Linked DNA regions of Homo sapiens: region 1 is linked to region 2. A link means that fine-mapping ties the variant in region 2 to the expression of a gene that starts in the linked region. Tissue or cell type: whole blood. Region 2 holds a variant in brackets; the other region holds the start of a gene. All regions are shown on one strand. Distances are from middle to middle.

Evidence for each region. PIP is the estimated chance that this variant, and not a neighbour inherited with it, causes the effect.
Region 1: BCL2L1-AS1 starts here. The variant in region 2 is the best candidate, but not a certain one, in a credible set for the expression of BCL2L1-AS1 in whole blood (INTERVAL, PIP 0.65).

What each region holds. Positions count from the first base shown.
Region 1 is chr20:31,672,917-31,677,303 of GRCh38, reverse strand. It overlaps BCL2L1-AS1 (BCL2L1 antisense RNA 1), which reads right to left and starts at 2,196. Exons shown (of 4, transcript NR_187576.1): 1 at 2,089-2,196. The region is part of intron 2 of BCL2L1 (BCL2 like 1); the gene reads left to right. It overlaps LOC124904883 (a long non-coding RNA gene), which reads right to left. Exons shown (of 3, transcript XR_007067559.1): 3 at 3,057-3,120. RefSeq lists a cis regulatory region at 1,276-1,293 and enhancers at 1,213-1,357, 1,594-1,693, 1,664-1,958, 2,291-2,340, 2,361-2,410 and 1 more.
Region 2 is chr20:31,698,585-31,702,971 of GRCh38, reverse strand. The region is part of intron 2 of BCL2L1 (BCL2 like 1); the gene reads left to right. All of the region lies in intron 3 of BCL2L1-AS1 (BCL2L1 antisense RNA 1), which reads right to left. Among named protein-coding and RNA genes, the nearest start is that of BCL2L1, 22 kb to the left of the region's middle. RefSeq lists enhancers at 3,538-3,587, 3,971-4,387. The variant A/C (reference allele first, on the strand shown) is at 1,945.

The DNA.
Region 1 (4,387 bases), 26 kb after region 2:
AGGCTGAGGCAGAAGAATCACTTGAACGTGGGAGGCAGAGGTTGCAGTGAGCCAAGATTGTGCCACTGCACTCCAGCCTGGGCGACAGAGTGAGACTCTGTCTCAAAAAAAAAAAAAAAAATTAAATAAGGATTTTTTTAATCCGCATTTTACAGATGAGGTCAAAAGCAAAATATCTTAATCTAGTTTGCAAGACTTATTGGTTCTCTGCCTGCTCTGTGCTCTGGCAGCCCAGCTTGGTAGAGAAGTAGAAATTAATTGCCTTTATCCAGATAGCACTTCCATTTCACAAATGAGACAACTGATACTTGGAGGAGAGCAGGAGAGCAGCAGCGGAGAGAGAGCAGAACTAAGACCAGCCAGTCAAGGGAGACAGAGGGAGACGAGCATCAGCTCCCTGACAGGGAAGAGTTTTCCAACGGGGCTGTCCGAAGATGAAATGTCCCACCCAGGAAGGAGGGAGCTCTCCATAAGTGCATAAGGAGAGAATGCCCTCGAGATGACTACCAACTCCCATGGGTGTGGACCATCAGAATGAAACAGACCCACTGTGGGACTTCAGCACTCCACCCTTCTGAACCCTGTCTGTGAAATGGGGGTGTTCGTGGTGAGCTTGAGTATTACATGGAAGGTTGGATGGGCATGCTGTAAGGTCCCTGGAGTCTCCGACTCTGTTCCAAGGGTGAGTATTGGTTTTTCTCACCCTGGACACTGGGAGAAGAATGGAGGGCTGTGGCCATCTACTTACGAAAGAATAGGGAGTCACCAGGGTTGAAATGAGAGAGTTGAGATGACGGGAGGCATCGGAATCCCAGGGGATGAGCCTATATGAGCACATAGCAGCCACCCAGGAACAGTTAAATGTTTGGACTCTGGAGACAGACTGCCTGTATTCAAATCCCAACTCTACCACTTGTGGCCTCTGTGACCTTGGGAGGGTGATTTATCCTCTCTGCCTCTGTTTCCTCATCTGTAAGCTGGAGAGTAATAACAGCATGTACTCGGTGGGATTATTGTGAGGATTAAGCAAATTCTTTACACACGAAGCACTTAGCACCATGCCTGGTACTTAGTAAACATCAGCTGTTTTATCTCCATCGGTTCCAGGGAAGGAGGTTATGAGCCCCCAAATGAGCATCTCTGCCCCCAGTAAATGCTTTTCTGAATTCTCTCTCTTTGCCCCCAAGCCCATCACCCTGGTTCTGAGCCAGAGAGATGGAGAGCCCACACTCGCACTGCTAGGCCTGATAGCTTTCTCGATTCCCCAGCGGAGGTGTTATCTCCTCCCGGCACAACCGCTTCCTTTTCTGAGAAATGCAAGTGCATCTGTCAGGCACAGCTTCTTAGAACTAATGGTGGGGGAGGAGGTGGAGGAGGAGAGGCTGGCAGCTGAATTGAACAGGTCAGAGTTGGAGGAAGATAAACATGAAGTTTGTTGTGAGGATACCACCAAATATTCCCTATAGCCCAGATGGCTTGAGCCCTCTATGACACCCCCTGATCTCACCACTACTGCTAGGGAGGTCAAGGCAGGAGAAACTGAGGCTCAGAAGCCAAAAGGCTTGCTGTGGCACCCACCCATACCTGGGCCGGCTGGACTGAGGTGTTGACCCCAACACAGTCTTGCCACCCCTCTCTTTGCCCTGCCTCCACTGAGCTGCTTCTCCAAGTTGCCCACCTCCAGGCCTATGTTTCCGTGGGGGAGAGGAGAAAGGCCATGTTCTTCTCACATCTCGGGAGCCAACAGCTCCCCTGGGAAAACCAGAGGAAGTGGATTCCAACCACAAACCTCACTTCTTCCGAGTCTCCGCCTGCAACTCCCTGCCAAAAGAGTGATAAGGCCTCTCCGTTTGCCCTACCCCCTTCCTACCATCTCCCAGCGATCTTCTAGCAAGGCCATGTTTGTCTATTCAGCACACATTTATCAGCCTCTCCCTCAGGGAAACTGAGGCCAGGAGCATAAGGTGACTCTGCAGGTGACTCACAGCCTGCCAATGCAGGGATGTGAGAAGGACAGAACAAGGTACAGTTCTGGTGTCCCTGGCACTTTTCCTGGCTGCTAGTAGCCTCTTCCTCTTCTCCACCTACCTCTTTCCTGAAATAACCAAGCAGGAAGGAAGCAATGGGCCTGGGCCCTCCAGAGTCACCCAAGAGGAAGGAAGGGTTCGTCTGGCACAGGCATGCTTGTTCCTCACTGAAGCCAGGACGGAAGGGTTTCACTTTCCCTCCTGGTCTTCGTCACATCCTTTTCCTGTGGCACCAGTTCCCCTCAGCTGGCAGGAGCCAGTGCTTATTCATTCAGCTGATGGCCTCAGGCTACTTTACCCTCCTTGACAGACCCAGGGCCATGGCCCTGGCTCAGAATATGGGGTTTGCTGCCAAACATACTGGGGCTTAAAAATGGCTTCCCTTTTTTTTTTTTTTTTTTTGAGACGGGGTCTCATTCTGTCGCCCTGGCTGGAGTGCAGTGGTGCTGTCACAGCTCACTGCAGTTTCAACCTCCCAGCCTCAAGCAATTCTCCCACTTCAGTCTCCTGAGTAGCTGGGACTATAGGTGCATGCCAACACACTCAGCTAAATTTCTAAGATTTTTCTTATAGAGATGGGGGTCCCACCATATTGCCCTGGCTGGTCTCGAACTCCTGAGCTCAAACAGTCTGCCCACCTTGAACTCTCAAAGATGCTGGGATTACAGGTGTGAGCCATCACAGCTAGCTGCCACTTATCCACTTTAGCTAGGTCTCAGTATCTCTGAGCCTCAGGTTACCTGGACTTAGAATGAAGGCCTTCCTCAGCCACAGAAGTACATGGACCTGGCCCATGATTGTCCTTTAGAAACTGAGCAGAGTACTGCATCAACGTTAGGAGTAAAGGCACTGAACCAGATTGCTGGTGTAGGCATCCCAGTTAGGTCACCAGCTCACTACATGGCCTTGAGCAATTCACAGATCATCTGTGGGCCACATATCCATCAGCTATATGGGTTAATGGTAGTACCCACTGACAGAGTGTAGAGACAACTAATGAACTAATCTACAAAAAAACCAAGAAGAGTACCTTACAGAGTATGTGCTCAGGAAGTGTGCGCTGCTGCTGAAGTCACTAAGGAAGTCAGGTTTTCTGTGGGTAGAGATAGCAGGGTCTAAGATGGCAAGATTGGACATCAGAATGAGTGTGAATGAAGTACTATCTTGGATAGATTAAAAGAAAAAGAATGGTGTGAGGCCAGAACTCAGACAGATCCTACTCTTGCCACTTCCTAGATAGGGATCTTGGGTAAATTCTGGAGCCTCCATTTTCACATATGTAAAATGGGGCTATTGATAAATGTTATGAGGATCAAATGAAAGCATTCATTTGTTCTTCTAAAATAGATTTATTTAGAATGGCATCTGCTGTGTTCCAAGTATAGCACACCAGGTTCTAGAGATACAGGTGACAGAGCCACACACAGTCAAGTGGGGGAGACAGGACAAAAAATAATCTCTCAAGTGAATATGATGATTGTACATGTAATTGGGAAATATGGCCTAGTGTGCATAGACTGCTTTATAGCTCAGTGCCCAGCACAGGTGAAACACTGAAATGTTTGGTAATGGTCAGCTGTCATAATAATAGTTTTTTGTTTCTTTGCTTTTATCTTTTGTTTTTTTGAGACAGGGTCTCACTCTGTTGCCCAGGCTGGAGTACAGTGGCCCCAAACATGATTCAATGCAGCCCTGACCTCCCAGGCTCAAAGATCCTCCTCAGCATCCTGAGTTGCTGAGACCATAGATGCATACCACCACACCCAGCTAATTTTTTTTTTTTTTTTAATTTTTTTGTAGAGACAGGGTCCTCCTGTGTTGCCCAGGCTGGTCTCAGACTCCTGGGCTCAAGCAATCCTCCTGCCTCAGCTCCTAAAGTATTTTATTACTGTTAACAAGTAAGGGCTGGGTGCGGTGGCTCATGTCTTTAATCCTAGCACTTTGGGAGGCCAAGGAAGGTGGATCACCTGAGGTCAGGAGTTCCAGACCAGCCTGGCCAACATAGTGGAACCCCACCTCTACTAAAATTACAAAAAATTAGCCAGGTGTGGTGGCGGGTGCCTGTAATCCCAGGCAACTTGGGAGACTAAGGCAGAAGAATTGCTTGAACCTGGGAGGCTGAGGTTGCAGTGAGCCAAGATCATGCCACTGCACTCCAGCCTGGGCAACAGAGTGAGAGGCTATCTCAAAAAAAAAAAAAAAAAAAAAGCAAGGACACCATGGACCAGAGAGGTGAAGTAACCTGCTCAAAGTCACACTACTTGGAAGAAGTGGGAAGGGTGGGCACAGTTGCTCATGCCTATAATCCCAGTACTTTGGAAGACCAAGGTAGGAGGATGAGGCCAGGAGTTTGAAACCAC
Region 2 (4,387 bases):
AACCCAGACTTTTTTTTTTTTTTTTGAGATGGAGTCTTGCCCTGTCGCCCAGGCTGGAGTGCAGTAAGTGTCATTTCGGCTCACTGCAACCTCCGCCTCCCGGGTTCAAGCGGTTCTCCTGCCTCAAACTCCTGAGTAGCTGGGATTAAAGGTGCCCACTGGCCGGGCACGATGGCTCACCCCTGTAATCCCAGCACTTTGGGAGGCTGAGGCGGGTGGATCACCTGAGGTTGGGGGTTCGAGACCAGCCTGACCAACATGGAGAAACCCGTCTCTACTAAAAATACAAAATTAGCCAGGCTTGGTGGCACATGCCTGTAATCTCAGCTACTCAGGAGGCTGAGGCAGGAGAATCACTTGAACCTGGGAGGCGGAGGTTGTGTTGAGCCAAGATCGCACCATTGCACTCCACCCTGGGCAACAAGAGCAAAACTCCATCTCAAAAAATAAAAATAAAAAAATAAAGGCACCTGCCATCACGCCCAGCTAATTTTTGTATTTTTAGTAGAGATGGGGTTTCACCATGATGTCCAGGCTGGTCTCGAACTCCTGACCTCGTGATCTGCCCACCTCAGCCTCCCAAAGTGCTGGGATTACAGGTGTGATCCACTGCACCCAGCAAAACCCAGACTTCTTACCAACCTCTGAGGCCTGTGTGATCTGGTCCTGGCTGCCCCTCCATCATTCTGTCTCTCCCTTACTCCACTCAAGCCGCATGGGTTCCTTGCTGCTTCTGGATCCTGGCATAACTTCTTCCTGCCCAAGGGCCTTTGTAGTTGCTCTTTTCTCTGCCTGAAATGTTCTGCCCCTAGTATTTCCTTTCTGAGGCCTACATTTGGTTCAGCTTGCTGGTCACCTCCTCTGAGAGACTTTCCTTGACCTTCAGTTTAAAGTAGCCATGCTATTTCTAAATCCCTCTCCAGTCTTCTTGTAGTTTTGTCATAGCAACAGCCTCTACCTGGAATTTTCTTTTTGTTTGTGTACTTGTTTTTGTCTGTCTCTTCTATTAGAATATAAGCCCCATGATTATAGGGCGTTTGGTTTGTTCATCATTGTATCTCCAGTGTCTGCAGCTGTTCTTTGCAGGTAGTAAACATTCAGTGAATACTTTTTGAATAAATTATTAAACAAATGAACAAAACCTAAGACATGAAAAAACTGAGGCCCAGAGAAGAGAAGCTAATGAGAATTAATAGTGTTCTTTCATCCTACTTTTGAATGCTCATTAAGTGCCAAGCACTGTATTCAGTGATTTACATGCATTATTTTTGCCACTTATTCTTAATTGTTATAATGAGTTGTTTGGAACATCATTTTTTATATATACCACTGTACCACTTAAAAGAAAACTGGACCAATCTTATTTTTTATTGGAACCTTGCTCTGTTTTACAAAGAGTTGGAAGCAACTTAGGAAAATTCATACAACCAAAAGGATAATGTAGCTAAGGGAGTCGGGTGAAAGGAAAATATGGGTAAGAAGACGAGCCAAAAGTAAAATTAGTTCACACAAATGTATGTTACAAAAGTCCTTTGAACTGAGCAGTTTTTATGCCATTCTTTATAACTAAATATTGCCCAGATTCATTTAAAATGATGGTTTTTTAAAAATCTAACTACAGGCCGGGCGTGGTGGCTCACGCCTGTAATCCCAGCACTTTGGGAGGGCAAGGTGGGCAGATCATGAGGTCAGGAGATCAAGACCGTCTTGGCCAACATGGTGAAACCCTGTCTCTGCTAAAATACAAAAAATTAGCCAGGTGTGGTGGCGCGTGCCTGTAATCCCAGCTACTCAGGAGGCTGAGGCAGGAGAATCGCTTGAACCCAGGAGGCGGAGGTTGCAGTGAGCTGAGATCACACCACTGCACTCCGGCCTGGCGACAGAGCAAGACTCCGTCTCCAAAAAAAAAAAATCTAATTACATAGATGACCTTGGGATTGTCCC[A/C]GACTGCACCTAATAGTCTAGGATTTGCTGGCTCCCTTCCTGCCTCATCAGCTGGGCTCCTGGATTGAGGCAACACGATCTCCTCTTTTTGCCAAAGGGGCTGGTCCAGCAGGGAGGAGCCTAGACCCCTCTCCAGTCCTCTCTGGACCTAGCTAACTTTGTTTCAAGGAGTCTTTTCTGTAGAAGGTTTATTAATTGAGATATTGCCATTGGAAACCCAGTTCTGCTCTCAAGATACTTCCAGTTGAATTAGAGAGAAAAGACATAATATACATGAAAGGAGATCTTGTAAAAGCCAACAATAAATGCTAAATGCCAAATGAGGGAAGGACTTCACAGAAGAGGTGAGGTTTACACCGAGCCTTACCACAAAGCGGAGAAAAGAGGGGCTGTAGCTCCCAGTAGGAGAGTCAATGTGGGTTAAGATTTGCAGGCTGAGACCAACTCTCAAGAAGAGACCCGTGGGCAGTGGCAGTCAAATTTTAGGCATATGTGGAGGGGTCTCTTTCATTAGGTAATAAAGCCAAAAAGGTCAGCTAGAACCAGGTTTGTAGGATCTTCAAGTGCCAGGGGGAGGATTCCAAGGCCCTCCTTGGCAGCCCTGGTATCCCAATAGATAGGTCGTGCCCAGGGACTAATGCCCATGCTGGCCACTGGTTGGGCTGCTGATTCCCAGGTGGCAATGGCAGCTTCTGAAATGGGAGCCAGAGCCTTCAACTAATAGTGAGGGGAGGAGTTAAGTGTGGGGCCATTGTCAGTTTAGCTTTTGGCCATCCCAGGTGCTATTCATTTGGCGATTCGGCAAATGTTTATTGAGCACCAACTATGTGCCAGGCCCTGTGCTACATGCTGAAGATGCTAAGATAAACAAGATAAGGTCAAGGACATTGCTCTTGTAGAACTCTTACTTTAATGGGAGAGACAGCTAGCCCGAGAAACAAACAAGATTATTTCAGGGATTGGGTTAAATGCTGTACAGAAAATGAAACTGAGTAATGGAATATCTAGGAAGCAACTATATGCATGGGCCAACTCAGTTACTCAGCTTTGACACTGTTGGGTCTAGTTGGTACCTTTGTTTCCTTTTGTGTTATAGATGGAGGTGATCTTTCAAATCTCCTCTGCAGAGATCCAATGGGATAATGGTTGACTACCATTTATTGAGCACCTAGCCCATGTCAGGTACTCTACATGCATTTTCTCATTTAATTCCCTCACCTAGACTGTGTGCTAAATGGTCCATTAGCCCTACTTTCTTTTCCAGTAAAGAAACTAAGGTTTGGATAAGTGAAGTTGCATGCCAGGGTCCTGCAGCTTTACGTGGTGAATCCTGGATTTGGACCTAGATTGGGCTGGCTCTAAAGCCAGGCTTCTTTCCCCTGCTCCACTCTTGGAATAAATGAAGGATTGTTGGTTCAGGATATGCAGAAAGCTGCTTAGCAAAAGGAGAGTTGGAGAAGCATCTTGGTTTGAGGGTCTTGAAGGACACCTACTGTACTCCCAGCTGAGAGGACTCTTTCTCCTCATCTTCAGGAGGATGCCTCCAGAGCCTGGGGTTACTGTAGGCCTTTGCCAGAGGCATGTTCGGACTTAGCCAGCTGAGTATCCCCTGTTTCCTGCTTTTACCATCTCAGCTGCTGGTCAGGAGGTTTGGGAAGGTGACATCATCTAGCTGAATCAGCTGCTGCTTCTAGATACATTACTGGAACTGAAAGTCATTACCCCTTCCTTCCTGCTCTGCAAGTCTCTTCAGAATGAGGCTGGAGTATGGGTGTTCCACCTGTCTGCAGGGTCATGACTGGAATGGTACTTGCTGCTTTTAAAGAGCTAAAAGGTTTTTAAAAGCTTGTTCATGGAAAAAGCTTTCCTCAAGGCTTCTCAAGCTAAGGGAACAGAGCGTCCTTGAGAGGCAGGAGGATTCACAGGAAGGCCCTCCCCGACTCCCTCTTGTCCACCTACATTTAGCCATATGACCCTTCTGATCTCCTTTGCCTAAGTCCGAGGCTTAGGCCTAGCACTGTAGGATGGGTAAACAAAACGTTATTTGTGGACTTTTTGACCTTAAGACTTTTAGAGTCTGGTCAAGGGGACAAAAAAAAACTGCTTACATTTCAGAGCAGACCAGCCACCACACTATTGGAGATATATTGGAGATCTCCCCTTGACTCACTAATTGAAAAGCAAAAAAGGGCAGGTGTGGTGGCTCATGCCTGTAATCTGAGCACTTTAGGAGGCTGAGGCAGGCAGATTGCTTGAGCTTAGGAGTTTGAGACCAGCCTGGGCAACATGGCGAAACTCTGTCTCTACAAAAAAATACAAAAATTAGCCGGGTGTGGTGTTTCGCACCTGTATTCCCAGCTACTCGGGAGGCTGAGATGGGAGAAACACTTGAGTCCAGGAGGTCAAGGTTGCAGTGAGCCATGTTCACACCACTATACCCCAG